Regions from separate parts of the Homo sapiens genome. Here region 2 is linked to region 1. Evidence: fine-mapped expression QTL. A gene starts in region 1. The other region holds a variant in brackets. All regions are shown on one strand. Distances are between the middles of the regions.

Region 1 (8,316 bases):
TTTTTGTGGAAACAGTGTTTCCCTATGTTGGCTAGGCTGGTCTTGAACTCCTGACCTCAGGTGATCCGCCCACCTCAGCCTCCCAAAGTGCTGGGATTACAAGCGTGAGCCACCGCACCCGGCTGGCACCAGGTCTTGGAGGGGAAAAACTTTTTTTTTGAGGCAGGGTCTCAATCTGCTCCTCAGGCTGCCCAGGCTGGAGTGCAGTGGCGCAATCCGAGTTCATGGCAGCCTCAACCTCCAGGGCTCAGACAATGCTCTCACCTCAGCCCACTGAGTAACTGGGACCACAGGTGCGTGCCACCACGCCTGGCTAATTCTTTTTTCTCTTTTGAAAAGACAGGGGTCTCACTATATTGCCCAGGCTAAAGGAGGAAAACTTAAGAAACTGGTCAGAAAGACGCAAATTTGGAGCTGAAACAGGCTTTAACGATATTTCAGCTCAAAATCCGCCCCTTCAAGCGTCAGCTGAGGAAACTGAGGCTCCGTGGCTAGTGGCCTCCACTCACGCAGCTTTAATGATATTTCAGCTGAAAATCCAGCCCTTCAACTGTCCGCTGTGGAAACTGAGGCTCCATGGCCAGTGGCCTCCACTCATGCAGCTGCTAAGAGGCAGAGTCAGGGTCAAGAGCCTTGGCTGTTGGCTCAGAGTCCTCTTTCCACAGGGCCCGACTACTCCTATCATTCACTCTCATGACAGGAAAACAGCACACAAAATCAGAGCTGGCCAGGGAAAGGGGAAGCGGGGACCCCTCTGCCTGTGACATGGAGGTCAAGTTCAGATCAGCTCAAACCCTGGCTGGCTCTCCAATCCCGTCTCCAGGCACCAGCCAACATTCATTAACTCAATACGTATATACATTAATTATTTGCTGTTCCTCTAATACCTTCTTGGTCTTCTGCCTGAATTGCCCAAGAATCACCTTCCTTGTGAGGTCTTCTCTGGCATGCACCTCGCATGCCAGACGCTCGCCATGAGGAGAACAGCAGGAAAAATGTGATGAGCAAGATAGGGTGCGCACCTTGTAGAGGCCACCCTAGAGGGCAGTGGGGGAGATGGGGCCACTCAGGTGAAAAGCAGCACCACAAGCTGAAGACACTGCCCAGGAGGAGAATGGTGGGCGCTGCAGCTGATGAGAGGCCATCCAACAGCAATGAGGGAAAGAGGATTCCGAGAAAGGGGCCGTATTAAAGAGACCTGGCTCCCCCAGCTAGGACTAAGCACCCCTTCTTCTACGAGCTCCTTCAGGGGAGGGGCTGTGTTATTCAATGGGATACACTAGTGGTTCTCGACGGCGGACAACTTTGCCCTAAGGGCACATTTGTCAATGCCTGGAGACATTGTTCCTTATCACAACTAAGGCAACTGGTGCTGCTATAAACATCCTAAAAGGCACAGAACAGTTCCCCACAATAAAGTGTGATCCAGCCCCAAATGTCAGCTCTGCTGAGTTGGAGAAAGTCTGGTCTATATAGTCAAGTATTTTATAGAGTACAGCAGTTTCCCCATATCCACAGGTATACGTTCCAAGGCACTCAGTGGGTGCCTGAAACTTCAGATGATACTAAATCCTATACAAGCTGCTTTTTTCCCACACATACCTATGAAAAAGTCTAACTTACAGATTAGGCACAGTAAGAGATTAACAGAAGCCAATAATAAAAAAGAACTGTAATGATATACTGTAATAAAAGTTATATGAATGTGGTCTCTTTAAATATCTTATTGTACTATGCTCACCTATTTTCAGATCACCAGAGGTAACTGAAACCTCAGAAGGTGAAACCACAAATAAGGGAGGACGGCTATACCGCACTCACTGTGGTAGGCGCCATCCTGTCAAACGCAGGCCCTGGCACAGACAATATATCTGACAAGTGGGTGACTTGCTGTCTGAGGAAATGGCTTTCAATCTCATTGTCCTGCCTAACGCAATTTTCTTCAAAAATGGAAGGACAGACATCATAGCGCATTTAAGGGTACTCAGTCTTTGTCCCAGAGGTCCCCTTAAGAAATAATACACACACTTAGTTTTACAAAATGCATGTTGGTCTCATTATGTAACAAACAAAGAGAAAAAATGCTACTCGTAAAAGTGCTGATCTGAGGGTGTTTCTAAGCCTTTTTTTTTTTTTTTTTTTTTTTTGTGAGAAAGGTCTCACTCTGTCACCCAGGCTGGAGTATGGCGCGATCTCAGCTCACTGCAGCCTTAACCTCCTGGGGTCAAGTGATCCTCCTCTCTCAGCCTCCCAAGTAGCTGGGACTATAGATGTGTACACCAATACGCCCAGCTAATTTTCGTATTTTTTTGTAGAGACAGGGTGTTACCACATTGCCCAGGCTGGTCTCAAACTTCTGGGCTCAAAAGATCCACCTGCCTCAGCCTCCCAAAATGCTGGGACTATAGGTTTGAGCCACCGCACCCAGCTCTATGCTTTTTTTTTTTTTTTTTAACAGAGTACAGGAAGGGTTAGATGGTCCTCTACCCTTCCACAGAGTGTGGGAGAACCACTATCCTCCTGATCCTCCATCCCGTCTAAGGAGATGAGAATTCAAAGGGAAGATCACAACAGTCCCTCAAAATACACATTAAAAATTATGAGGGTGCCGTGGCTCACGCCAGTAACCCCAGGACTTTGGGAGGCCAAGACAGGTGGATCACTTGAGCTCAGGATTTCGAGACCAGCCTAGGCAACATGGCGAGACCCCCCCATCTCTACAAAAAACACGAAAATCAGCCAGGCATGGTGGTGGTGCACGCTTGTAGTCCCAGTGACTCCGGAGGCTGAGGTGGTAGGATCACTTGAGGTGGGAGGTTGAGTGCGCCGTGATGGAACTACTGCGCTCCAGCCTGAGAGCCAGAGCAAGACCCTGTCTCAAAAAAAAGAAAAACAAAAATCATGAAGTCAACTATTTGCTGGATAACAAGGAAAAAAATCAACGCAGCAGACAGGAAACTGGCTTTGTTTCTCCCTCAAATTAAATAAGGAGATGGCCTCTGAAAGCCAAGAGGAGGTTCTGCACACCAAAGTCAAATTAATTGGTGGACCGGTGCACCCACCCAGCCACCCTGCACATCCTTCTAACAGGCCCAGCCTTCCTGGCTTGTTTAACGGTTTGGTGTGGATTTTTCCCACCCCGAGGGGACAGGCACGGGGCTGAGAACGAGGTCTGTGATTGGAGCAGCAGGCAGCGAGGCCATCCCACACCCCGACTGCTGCTCGTGTCCAGATTCCCTCCGGGAATGAGTCATTTTAATCGTCGTAGGTGAGATCTAATCAGGGGTTAATAAGCCTCCAGAACCCAGGTCACAAAGCTGTTTCCTGGGAAGACACTGATTTCCAGATTTCTGCTCCCAAAGCTAAAATCCACGCCGTTTTGGAAAACGCTGGGTTAAACGCTCCAGTACTAGAAAGACCAAGGTGACATCATGCTGGGGAGGGGCGTCTTGGCCCGGAACCCCCTTGGTGGTGCCGCAGCCCCCCGCACGGACCAGCAAACGGGAGTGGAGATGTGGATGAAGGGCCGTGCCCTAAACCCCTAGACCCCGCACCCCTAGACCCTGGACACCCCACCCCGCACCCCCAGACCCAGGGCCCCGCTCTGCATCCTGACCCGCACCCCCATACCCGATACCCCAAGACTCTGAGCGCCGCCCGCACCCCCAGACCCTGGACCCCCACCCCGCACCCTGGCCCCCACCCCCAGACCCGGTACCCCAAGACCCCGAGCGCCGCCCGCACCCTCAGGCCCCGGGCCCCGCCCGCATCCCAGCCTGCACCCCCGCCTCGAGGCCCCGCCCCGGGCCTCCGCTCCCAGACCCCGTCTCCGCCGGCGGCCCCGGCCCCGGCCCCACGCCGCCCCCGCCACTCACAGTTGCGGATATCCGAGATGAAGACCGCCAGGCCCCGCATCCCGTCCCCCTTGGACACGGCCGGCATCTTCCGACGCTCGGGAGCGGCCTCGGCTGGCGGACCCGGGCGGAGGAGCGCGGGGAGCGGGAAGCGGGGAGTGCGGTCGCCGTCACCGCCGCGGAGGAGCCGCCGGGGAGCCGCCTAACCACGGCCGCCTCAGGGTCCCAGCGCCGCTTTCTGGGCCGCCGCGCGCGCGCACGTACGGCGCCCGCACCAGCACGCACGCGCACGCACGCGAGCGACGACGGACGGCGGCCGGGGCGGGTGTCGCGTGAGGCAGCGCGCGCGCGTCCGCGGCACGGGGGCGAGCCGGTCGAGGCAGGCGCGGGGGCGCCCCCTGCAGGCGGACACCATGGACGGAGCCGCTGAAGCCACGCGTTCGCGTCCCGGGGCCGCGCCAAGCTGGCGATGCCGCCCGCGTCCCCCACGGGAAGGGCGTGGGTCCGGGCGGGAACCCGCGTGTGCAGCGGGCCGCCTCTGTCGTTGTTGGTGGTCACTGCAAAAGAGGCGGCCACGCAGGCACACGCGTACGGCCTCGTCCTGGGCCTCGGCCCCGCTAGCTTGCCCCGAGCAGTCTCCGTTTTCTTACTTGGAATAAACGACCTGTGAGCGCTGGGCGGCGGGGCAGCTCCGAGGCCAGGGCCTTGTTTGTTCCGCGGGGGCCGGGGCGGGAGGGCGGCGCCGGGAGGAAGCTGGGGCTCCAGGCGAAGGGGTCACAGCCGCTGGACGGCCTTTGGCGAGGAAACCCTCCCCTAGCACGGTATCCTGAGACGGTGGGGCTGGCCCGCCCCTCCTGCCGCCCTGAGCCGCCAGGGCCACATCTCTTGCGGTCCCTGAGCTGGGGGCGAGGCAGGCCCCGTGCCCGACCCAGCCCAGGGTCTGTGTGGCAGCCCAGGTGCCCCCTCCACATCACCTGGGCCTGCAGAGAAACAACCACCCACCCCACCCCAGTGACAGCGGCCGGGGGCGGCAGCCCCTGCGGAATCTAGTCCCTCGGCGGCGCCAGGACTTTTGGCCACTGTTGCCAGGGCCCCCTCTGCTCCCCAGCCCTCTGCACCACTGCAAGCTGGAGGCCTAGGCCCACCCCTGTGGACACATCGCAAGGGAGGACCTGCTGGGCCAGGCTGCACAGCTCCAGGTCCCGGCCAGGAAGAGACCCCAGGGAGTGGGGAAGCAGATGGCCCTGCCTCACTGTCCTTCCCAGAGCCAGATGGCTTTGAACAGGAAGCTCCCTCCTGCTGCAGTGGGGGGATCTGGACCCTGTACCTGGAACTGGCCCAGACCCACCAGCCAGGGCTTTGTCCCCACCCTGGCTCACTTCCGCAGCCCCAGATGAGAGCTTAGCCCTGGTGGAGCCCGGCCAGGAGGAGGGCACAGGACCCATGCCCCTCCCCAATGAACCGGGTGCCGCACCCAGGCTCTGGGCCTCCAGAACTCCTGGGGAAAACCAAGATCTGTGACAGACCCCAGTCAGCATAAGGCAACCAAGTCCATCACTTCCCAAGACAGAGGCACGGAGCCGACCCAGCAGAGGGCTTCCTGGAGGACGGTACACCCCTCCGGAGTCCCTATCCTCTCCCAGTGCCACCTCCTGGCAGAGAAAGTGGTCCCGGGGCTGTTCATTCTTCAGCCTCTCCCTTCCACCAAGAAGCTTCCCTCCCCTGTCCCTGACAACAAATAAAGGCCATTCTGGACACAAGAGCATCTTGTGCCATGTGAGGGGTCCTGGGCTGCTCTCCAGGACAGTCCCAGCAGTCACGAGGACCGTCCACTAACACACGTGGGCAGAGCATGGGCTCTGGGCGTCAGGAGGCTGGCATGCCTAATCCAAGCTCCCATTGGCAGTGGCAGTGCAGAAGACCGAGACAAGCAGACCACTGTGCCCCCCCACCAGCAGCCACTCACAGAGCAGGGCAATGGGGGTGCTGCAGGGGCTGCCCACAGGAGGGCTTGGGCCTGGCAGGCATCCCCCTCCGCCCACTCGGAAGACTCCTCCTCAGTGCCAGCTCTGGGATTCCCACAGACATCCTCCCGTCCACACAAGAGTGTTTAGGGGTCCCAGAAGGCCCGACATGCAGCCATGCAAAAGACTTCCCACCTCCTTCCAGCGTCGTTGCCCTTGCAGACACGCAAGCCCTCCAGATGATTCACTCCAGTCCCAGCCTTGGGTCTGAGTCCATGTGGGCCTCTCTGACCACTGCCACTCCTCGGCTCGGGAGAGGCCAGCTTCGGGAGTGCGCAGTCCTAGGAAACAGTTTCTTTTTCTTTATTTTATTTTTTGTAGTGATGGCATTTCACCACGGTGCCCAGGCCGGTCTTGAACTCCTGTAATCCCAGCATTCCGCCTGCCTGTGTCTCCCAAAGTGCTGGGATTACAGATGCAAGCCACTATGCCTGGCCTATTTATTTATTTATTTATGTTTAATTTTAGAGACAGGGTTTCTCCCTTTGACTCCCAGGCTGGAGTGCAGTGGTACAATCATGAATCACTACAGCCTCGACCTTCTGGGCTCAAACCATCCTCCTGCCTTGGCTCCCAAAGTGCTTAGACTGCAGGTGCACGCCACCACACCTGGCTAAGTTTCTGATTTTTGTGGAGATGGAGTCTCACTATGTTGCCCAGGCTGGTCTTGAACTCCTGGGCTCAAGCAGTCCTCCTGCCTTGGCTTCCCAAAGTGCTGAGATTACAAGCCACTGTGCCTAGCCTCAGTATCTTTCTTTTTTTTTTTTTTTCTTCCTTGAGATGGAGTCTTGCTCTGTCGCCCAGGCTGGAGTGCAATGGCATGATCTCGGCTCACTGCAACCTCCACCTCCCGGATTCAAGCGATTCTCCTGCCTCAGCCTTCTCAGTAGCTGGGATTACAGGCACGCACCATCACGCCCGGCTAATTTTTTGTATTTTTAGCAGAGGTGGAGTTTCACCATGTTGGCCAGGATGGTCTCAATCTCCTGACCTCATGATCCGCCCTCCTCGGCCTCCCAAAGTGCTGGGATTACAGGCGTGAGCCACCGCGCCCAGCCATTTCTTAAATTATTTGAACGTTTGTCATACTTTAGCCACGCAAGGTCACAGTACTATTCCCAAGGGCAGAGGTGGGGACGAGTCGCTTTCCTTCATCCACAGCCATGGGGAAGCCAGGGTCCACAGATACAAGCCCGACGTGGGCATCATGAAGGGAAAACAGGCTGGGGCCCCAAGCTGCGGTGTGGAGGTGCTGTCTCACTGCAGCAGGGTTCCCCAACATATAGCCCCTGCAGCGTTAGCTGGCCATGCCCTGGGTCCTACCCAGACCTGAACATGTCTGTTTTACAAATGACCCAGTTTCCTTCTCATCATCTCTGGCGTAAGTTGCAGACAATGACCCTTCCAGAAGAGGGTCTGGCAGCATGTTCCATGTACAGTTGGTCCCTGTGCACTCATGAGAGTTCAGGGACAATGAGGTGGCATGCTCAGACCCTGTGGCCCCCCCGTGATCATCTGAGCACCTGCAGTCCCCAGGAGTGACATGCTCAGGGAAGGCTGTGGGAACTGACTGTCCCCTGCCATGGAAGGGTGGGAGGCATGAGGGGTGCATTCTGGAACTCTGCGGTGGGTGGGTGCGTCAGGTATAGCCAGCCCACCTGAAGGAGGAGAAGATGAGCTCAGGCTCCTGAGTGCTCATCACGGGGCGGGTGGGAGCTGCCATGACCACACATCTTTCTCACCACTGCAAAGCCGGAGGAATACAAAGCCATTCACAGCTGGGCCCAGACAGCAGCAAAACAGCCACCAGGGTGGGAGGTGCAGCCTCCCCAGACGTCTGGCGGGAGAGCTGCAGTGCTGTGCGGGGCCCAGAGAACTGGCATGGGGTAAATTCGATAACCTGGGACCCCAAGCCCCACTTCCCAAGAGTCCCCGCCCAGCTCAGCCCTTGATCCTGAGTCAGGCCCCAACACATCCACACCCACAATCGCACAGAGGGGGATGACTGGGCACCTGTGAACAGCGGGAAGCTGAGTTTCTGTCAACAAAACCCCACAGAACACTTGTAGGATGGCTTTTGAGACACAGGCCCCGGACAACAGCTGGGTCCTTTGCAGCACCCACGGTGTCTGGATCAACTGAGCCAGCCTGGCAGCCCAGGGTCCGTCCGGCTGCTGCTGGGCCAAATTCCTGGAAGCTACATGCAGGGCAGCCCCTAAAACATGGTTACAATGACAGAAATCCCTGGACATAATGCAGAAAAAGGGGCTCAGAGGACTCAGGGACTGAACCTGCCCAGCTTCTCCTAAGGAGACCCTTCCTGCCAAAGGCTTGGAGATGTGTAACTTGCACAAGGCCAGCACCTTCACAGGCTCTCAGGGCCGTCCTCTGAGGCTGTGGGGGTGCAGCCACATCAGCAGGCCCCCTGCTCTCAAAGG
Region 2 (8,316 bases), 71 kb before region 1:
TGTTTATCAACACTCAAACAGCAGCTGAAACATGATCGGACATCACCGTGCAGACAGGACACAACCACCACCCAGACAGTGTGTTTCTTTCATGTCCTCCTTTTCCTCCTGAGAGTAATGAACACTGCAGTCCATATAAATCAAGGTTGTGAGAGGAATGACACAGCAAACCCACCCACAACACAGCAGCTCCCGCTCTCTCCCCCAGGCAGTAATCTGGGAGGTAAACTCCGCTGCCCACCTCTGTCCAGCTGGCCGCGGCCACACCAGAAGTCAGGGGGCACGGCAGCCCCGTGCCTGTCTGCAGGACTCAGGAAACCTGACTACCTGGCAAAGTTGTCTTCGGAGCCAGGAGCGAGAGGCGCGACCACAGAGGCCGAGTCTGAGAACACGTCCACGAGCAGCCCGCTGCCGCCGGAGGAGGGTGGGGGGCCCGCGGGGGCAGGGGGGGCAGCCCCGAGACCCAGCAGGTCTGCCGACGGAGAAGGCGTAGACTGGAAGAGAAGGAAGGAGAGCATCAGCAGAGAGCCTCCCTGGCCTGGCCAACCCCAGGCAGCTCACGCCTGCACGTCCTCCCCCATGGCACCCCCTTGGCATCCATGCACTCCCAGTGGCTGGGGCAGGTGGCACACAACTCAGTGAGTGACCAGAGAGTGAGGGCTAACAGCCACTTCCTGAGTATATCCCAGACTCCAGCCTAAAGATAACTGCACTTAAAACATCAGTCATAATTTCACTAAGGCACCCTACATTTTTTCACAAATGCTATTTGAATGAAAAAAATTCTCAAAAAAATTTTGCCATGAAAGACATAAAAAAAGGCCAGACGCGGTGGCTCACACCTGTCATCCCAGCACTTTGGGAGGCCGAGGTGGGCGGATCACGAGGTCAGGAGATCGAGACCACCCTGGCTAACACGGTGAAACCCCATCTCTACTAAAAAATACAAAAAAAATTAGCCGGGCGTGGTGGTGGGCGCCTGTAGTCCCAGCTACTCGGGAGGCTGAGGCAGGAGAATGGTGTGAACCCGGGAGGCGGAGCTTGCAGTGAGCCGAGATCGCACCACGGCACTCCAGCCTGGGCGACAGAGCGAGACTCCATCTCAAAAAAAAAAAAAAAAAAGAAAGAACTAAGATCATGCATGTTACTGCCAACTGTCCAATAAGAAAGTAAGCTTCCAAAGATGAAAAAGCAAATAACTTACTCGGGTGCATTATTAATCATTAAATTATTACTAAATCATTATTAATCATTAAAAGTCTACAGAACGGATACTTTTAAAAAATAATTGCTTTTTGGCTGGGCATGGTGCCCCACACCTGTAATCCCAGCACTTTGGAAGGTTGAGACAGAAAGACTGCTTGAGTCCAGGAGTTTAAAACTAGCCTGGGCAACATAGCAAGAGACTGTCTCTGTTTTTGTTTTTTTTGAGACAGTCTCACTCTATTGCCCAGGCTGGAGTGCACTGGTGTGGGCTCACTGCAACCTCCACCTCAAGCGATTCTCCTGCCTCAGCCTCCCAAGTAGCTGGGATTACAGGTGGCCGCCATCACGCCCAGTTAATTTTTGTATTTTCAGTGGAGACAGGGTTTCACCATGTTGGCCAGGTTGGTCTCGAACTCTTGACCTCAGGTGATACGTTCACCTCGGCCTCCCATGAGCCACCGCACCCGGCCCCAGTAATTGCTCTTTGATCCTGGGGCAAAGGCACAAGGAAAGAGCGCCTATGATCTCATGATTAAACTCTCACAACAGGGCACAAGCAGCAGCTCAGTCCATCGCATGCTCACCCATCCAACAGGGCAGCAGGCTCCCCAGCAATGCCCCAGCAGCCTGACTTTGGGAGCTCAGACCTGCTCTGGGCTCCACGGGTCCTGCCCCACAGCAGCCTGTGCACCAGAGGGACTCAGATGCTCCCTATAAAAAGGACACCCAGCCTGGCACGGTGGCTCACACCTGTAATCCCAGCACTTTGGGAGGCCGAGGGGGGCAGATCCCAAGGTCAGAAGATTGAGACCATCCTGGCCAACATGGTGAAACCCCGTCTCTACTAAAAATACAAAAATTAGCTGGGTGTGGTGGCACACGCCTGTAATCCCAGCTACTCAGGAGGTGGAGGCAGGAGAACTGAAACCAGGAGGCGGAGATTGCAGTGAGCCAAGATCGTACCACTGAACTACAGCCTGGCAACACTCACACTTTGACACTATACACCAGGGGCTCTTGGTGGAGAAACCCCCCACCCAGCTAAGAGCGTTCTGGAGATGTGGAGGGCTCTGACTATCACAAGGATATTGGCATTTCACAGGCAAAAAACAGAGACACAAGACACCCTAACTTGAAGATTCGTCTTGAGTAACTTTAGAATGTTCCACTGGACATCTAAGAAGGTAAAAAATTAGTTTGTAATTATCTGAGACTCCACCTGAATGCCATTTTACATTAATGCAAAGTTAAGGTGTCACACTGTACTTTCAAAAAAACTACATGTGTGGGTTTGTGATATATGAATTTTACTCAAAGATAAATGAGGCATCACAAAGTGTGTTATGCAAAAAAGGTGCAGGTCAGAATGGGGGCGGGGGGTCAGAATGGGGGCGGGTGAGAGTCAGAATGGGGATTGGGGGGCAGTCAGAAACGGGGCAGGCTCCCAGGCTCTGCTCTTGTGACGGAGCACCTCTGCAAGAGAAGACGACACGGGTCTCATGTGCTCCAAGGGTGGGAGGTCACAGAGGAGCTGGCAGAGAAGAGTCCCAAAAATATCCAAGGCGTGTCTCGATGAGACCATCTGAAGGCGGCGCTTTGCTCCCTACGCCGGGGACAGCGCCCGCCAACACTGTGGCCTCCACAGCCTGACAAAGCTGTGAGCTGCGTGGGAAGCCATCGGCCTTGGCCATGGCCATGCACCTGCAGCCCAAATGGAGACAGTTTCTCCTCTGCATCTCATCACAGATGTTACCCTGGTTCCTGCACTGATTCAAATACATCTATGGCTTTTATTTTATTTTATTTTATTTTTTTGAGACCGAGTCTCACTCTGTTACCCAGGCTGGAGTGCAGTGGTGCAATCTCAGCTCACTGCAACCTCCGCCTTCTGGGTTCAAGCAATTCTCCTGCCTCAGCTTCCCGAGCAGCTGGGATTACAGGCACACACCACCACACCTGGCTAATTTTTGTATTTTTAGAAGAGAC[G/A]GGGTTTCACCATGTTGGCCAGGCTGGTCTCAAACTCCTGACCTCAAGTGATCCGCCCACCTCAGCCTCCCAAAGCGCTGGGATTACAGGTGTGAGCCACCATGCCCAGCCATCTATGGCTTTTAACTGCTTTCTAAAGTAGGAAAGCCCTTTGCCCTAGTAAAGGCATTTGTACCTGAAACGTTACCACAGATTGTAACAGCGAGGCCAGATGCAAGGCCCCAGGACAGTAGGGTCCTAACACCCACTTCAGGTTCTTCATCTTCCTTATCCTCTCAGGCCTGGGAGACCCTCCTCAGGGAGCAGGCCTGGCTCCTGGGCCACACCAGTTCACCTCCTCCCTCCAATAGCAGGACAACTTGAGGGGTGAAGGTTTTGCCTACAAGGGCCCCAGGCTCCTGCATGTGAAGCCAGGCAGCCTCTGATCCCCACACCCCTGTGCTCCCCAGCACACCCGGGGACACGCACACCACAGCCTCCCCCAAGGAGCTGTGTGCAGAAAGAGGATGCTCGGAAGAAGTAAAATGTCCTGGCCTCATCTATGATGTTAAATAAAAGACATTTTGGCCAATGTGACACCAAGATAAAGCCACTGTCTCTCGTGGGAAAGGCACATGTGCTGATGCCACCCTGAGGCCCCTTCACGGCCCATACAGAAGACCCTGAGCAAGAAAACTTCGCCAGGAGTGTCTCCCCATAGGGAGGGGCCTCTCACTGGGGCTCCCGTGAGCAATGGGAACAGATTGGAAAGCACAGGATAGCAATGACACCCACACACCATAGCTCTCGGTCAGAACAGAGGGGCCCACACACCACAGCTCTCGGTCAGGACGGAGGCGCCCACACACCACAGCTCTCAGTCAGGACGGAGGTGCCCACACACCACAGCTCTCAGCTCAGAACAGAGCTGCGTGCCTCGGCCACAGACACCTCCCTAAGGAACCCACCCGCCAGGCACCACTGACCATCAGGAGTGAAGCCACACTCAGAAAATCCACTGAATGAGCCCTGAAGGGGGAACTCCCTCCAAGAAGGCACCTTACAGAAATGCTGAACCTCACTGGACCCTCATCCTCCTTTTCAGAGGGCAGCACACTGCTCTCACTCCCAGGGTCCAGAAGCTTCCATCTGATCCCTAAGCCACACAGTCAAGGCCAGGCCCTCCAAAGTCCACCCTGAGCCTAGCCGGACAAACCTGGGTGTGATCAAAGGCCTGGGGTATGGGCACACCTCACTTCTCAGGACCCACATTAAAAAGAAACATCAAATAAGAACCAAAGAGAGACTGAAGACAATCCTACAGCCCCTTTCCATGCTCCCTCAGCGAGTTCCTCTTAACGTCAAAGCAGCTGGAGGGGAGCGAGAGCACCTGGTGCCTTCCCAGCTTCCAACAGGCAATCCCAGGTTTCCGTGGAAGACTTCACAGTGCCCTTGCTGAAAGCCGGCCTCCAGGAATCCCTGCACACCAGCCTCCCCTGGATCACGTCATCCTGCCCTCGCCTCCTCACCCAACTGGGGCCGCGTCCTCCTCTCTGCAGGGCGGAGCCGCTGCCGGCCCAGCACCCACGGGAAGGCCCCTGCTCCGGCAGCTCACAGACAAATCTCCACAAGCAAGTTTCTGCCTCCAGAAACCTATGTCAAGATGTCCAAAGGAGAGGGAGAGATGGATTAGAGGAGTGACAGAGGCCTGCTGCACTAGGCGCCTGGCTAGTGACGTCCCACGGGAGGAGACAGGGTCAAAAGCAGGTCACCAGCTCTACAGAGCACATGAGAAACATAAGCATGAAGGTGCTCAGGCGTGAAGGGAAGACGCCCACCTTGGGAGAAAGAGTCACATCTTTCATTCATTTCATTCACTCCAGGATGAGCTCACAGGCAATTCAAGCCTCCAGATGGCGGGCACAGCAGCGTGCCACAAACAACACAGAGAGAGGGCACGGGGGGACAGGGGCTGCACAGAGGACACTAGGTGGAGGGAGGGGAGAGGGAGGAAGAGGGGGAGGGAAGACTGCTCATTGAGATGTCAGGCTCAGCCTGGATACCAGCCCCATGGCAGGCCCTGCACTGTCGGCCAGAGGGGCAGGACACATGGTCAGCCGGGGCACATAAGCAGGTCCCCGCCAAGGAGTGCCAGGACTCCGACATGAGCACCCTCCCAACCAGCACACTGCCAGGGCAGGCACCACCACAGGAGCTCACCCCACAAAGCCCTGCCGATACTGGGTAGCAGCACTGGTTGCCACCACTGGACCTGCGTCCTGGAGAGACAGGTCCTCTAACTGGACAAACAGAAAGCCCGCCTGACCCCGACAGGAGCCCTCCCTGACAGTGCAGAGGGGAACAGCTGGCAAGCAGAGCCAAGCAAAAACGCAACTCTCAAAACGACACTTCTCACCTGACAAATACCACAGGACACATTCTGTTACAGGATTATTCTCATCGCATCACACATACAAGGAAAACCAGACCTAACCCAACTCACTACATAAAACCTCGAAGAGCAGGGCAGGACAGGTCCTCTCTAAATCAACAAAGCATGTGAGGACAGCTGCCTGGGTGAGGCAGTCCTGTAGGAGAGGGGACGGCCACTTCCCCTAAAACAAGGCACCACAGAGGATGTGTGAGCTGAGCTGGACAAGACGACGGTCTGAAGGAAGTGCCTTGCCCAGCAGGCACAGTGGCCCCCGGGAGAGGACAGCGGGGTGTGCAGCAGGGACAGTGGCCCCCGGGACAGGCCAGAGGGGCGTCCAGCAGGGACAGTGGCCCCCGGGACAAGCCAGCGGGGTGTGCAGCAGGGACAGTGGCCCCCAGGACAGGCCAGGGGGGCGTCCAGCAGGGACAGTGGCCCCCGGGACAGGCCAGCAGGGTGTGCAGCAGGGACAGTGGCCCCCGGGACAGGCCAGGGGGGCGTCCAGCAGGGACAGTGGCCCCCGGGACAGGCCAGCAGGGTGTGCAGCAGGGACAGTGGCCCCCGGGACAGGCCAGGGGGGCGTCCAGCAGGGACAGTGGCCCCCGGGACAGGACAACGGGGCGTCCAGCAGGGACAGTGGCCCCCGGGACAGGCCAGGGGGGCATCCAGCAGGGACAGTGGCCCCCGGGACAGGCCAGCAGGGTGTGCAGCAGGGACAGTGGCCCCCGGGACAGGACAACGGGGCGTCCAGCAGGGACAGTGGCCCCCGGGACAGGCCAGGGGGGCGTCCAGCAGGGACAGTGGCCCCCGGGACAGACAGCGGGGCGTCCAGCAGGGACAGTGGCCCCCGGGACAGGACAGCGTGGCGTCCAGCAGGGACAGTGGCCCCCAGGACAGGACAGCAGCGTGTCCAGCAGGGACAGTGGCCCCCAGGACAGGACAGCGGGGTGTCCAGAGCCACAGCCAGAGCCTGGGTTCTCAGTACATGCTCCTCCCTGACAGGCAAATGCTCTGCTGGTCCCAAGTCTTGGGGGTGAGGCCCTGACAGGTCTGGGTGCACAGTAGGTGAGGGACCCACCACGGCGCTGGTACTGGCTGGGGCAGGCTCAGGACCCCCGTTCACGTCCACACTCCTGTCCCGCTTGGTGTCCTCCAGGTCTGTCACCGTGCTGGGGCCCTTCTTCTTCTTGAGCTTTGCCAAGATGGAGGACTCCCGCTCCGGGAATGGGGGCATCTCCTCCAGCACGGTCGCCTTGGAAAGAACACAGGGTGGGACTGGTCAGAGCTCCTGGCCTCCAACCCTCAGCCAAGCCAGCCCGAAGGGCGGGGGCCTCCTACCAGAATGTCGGTGCTGGCCACGGTGCTGAGCCGCAGGTACTCCACAGCACGCTGCTGCAGCTCCACGTCTGCGTTCCTGAGCTGGCTGTCGCTGCGCAGCACGTCCTGGATGGTGGGCTTCACCTCCGGGAAGAGGTTCACGAACTTGATGTAGGTGGACAGGAGCAGCGCGCGGGTGGGGACGCTGCACAGGTGGAACTTGGAGTGCAGCAGGTGGAACTGGATCAGCGGGCTGGGGACGGGGAGGCACAACACAGGGACACCGTCGTCCCCTCGCAGGCTGCAGCACGCCCCCGCGGGGGGGGGACGGCGGCGAGACCCCCTGGCCTGCACCAGAGGCCGCTGGTCGGGACCCTCTTCCAGCTCCAGATCCCACCGCAAAGACGCCCCTTTCACTAAGTCAGCCATCAACCCCACGTCTCCATTTTCTACTAGAATCCCTGCTTTTTCTATCAACTGAAGGAAAACAAAAAGACGCCGATGGGGAGCAGAAGCGGCTCTGCGAGGCCTCACGGCAGGGCCAGCTGGTGCCTCGCCTCTTGCCACCGACCACCGAGAGGCCCGCCGGAGCGCACACAGCCCCGACTCGCAAAGGGCCTCTCACCTGGATCTCGGGTCTCCAGCTATCAAGTTTCCAAACTCCCCCAGGATGTAGCCGCCCACTTTGACCAGGTTCTCGTGGCACGCGGGAGCCTGAAGAGCCTGCGAAGCACAAACAATGAGCCGGGGTGGCAGCCAGGTGCCAGAGTTAAGGCGAGGCGGGCACGTCCTGGCGCGGTGCACCCTACACCAGCACCAGCCCCTCAGCTTCCTGGAGACCCCAGTCCAAGTGCCCATCCCTGCCTTCCTCAGCACCCTCAGTACCTGTGTCAGCAGCAAGGAACCCAAGGCTGCCACACGCTGACCTGCCCTGGAGGGAGCTGCAGCATCCACAACAGGCTCTGGCTGGGGAGGTTCTGCCAGCGTCCTCATGGCACACCCCTTGCCGGTGGCCTAACCCTCTCCGACGGACAGGGCAGGCCCCACCACGGCATGCCCCAGCATGCTCTCACACACACAGAGGCCGGCTTTCTCAGGTGGCCCCCAGAGAGCCAGAAGTTTGAGAGTTAGGGTGAGAAGAAACTGGGACTCAGCAAGGGGCACCAACAGTGGAGGAGCTAGAGCCTCAGGGAAGAGCTGAGGGGCAAGAGGGGTCAGCAACGGCCCTCGGCACCTCCACGCAGGCAGGCTGGAACCACTCACTGCTCACCTTCTGCAACTGCCCTCCACCCCATCCTTCCTGCCATCCTGCGGGCCATACCTCGAACACAGTCTTGGCCGCGTAGCCCTGCACGTCGTCCCGGTTGATGACGATCTGAATGACTCGGTACCACACC

Evidence for each region.
Region 2: its variant is fine-mapped to the expression of AP2A2 in whole blood (INTERVAL, PIP 0.98).

The regions. Positions count from the first base shown.
Region 1 is chr11:921,648-929,963 of GRCh38, reverse strand. AP2A2 (adaptor related protein complex 2 subunit alpha 2) reads right to left here and starts at 4,094. Exons shown (of 22, transcript NM_012305.4): 1 at 3,876-4,094. The coding sequence starts at 3,942. RefSeq lists a silencer at 3,743-4,282.
Region 2 is chr11:992,610-1,000,925 of GRCh38, reverse strand. AP2A2 (adaptor related protein complex 2 subunit alpha 2) reads right to left here. Exons shown (of 22, transcript NM_012305.4): 11 at 8,241-8,316; 12 at 7,545-7,642; 13 at 6,941-7,172; 14 at 6,681-6,854; 15 at 328-494. Among named protein-coding and RNA genes, the nearest start is that of MUC6, 40 kb to the left of the region's middle. RefSeq lists an enhancer at 6,118-6,642. The variant G/A (reference allele first, on the strand shown) is at 3,193.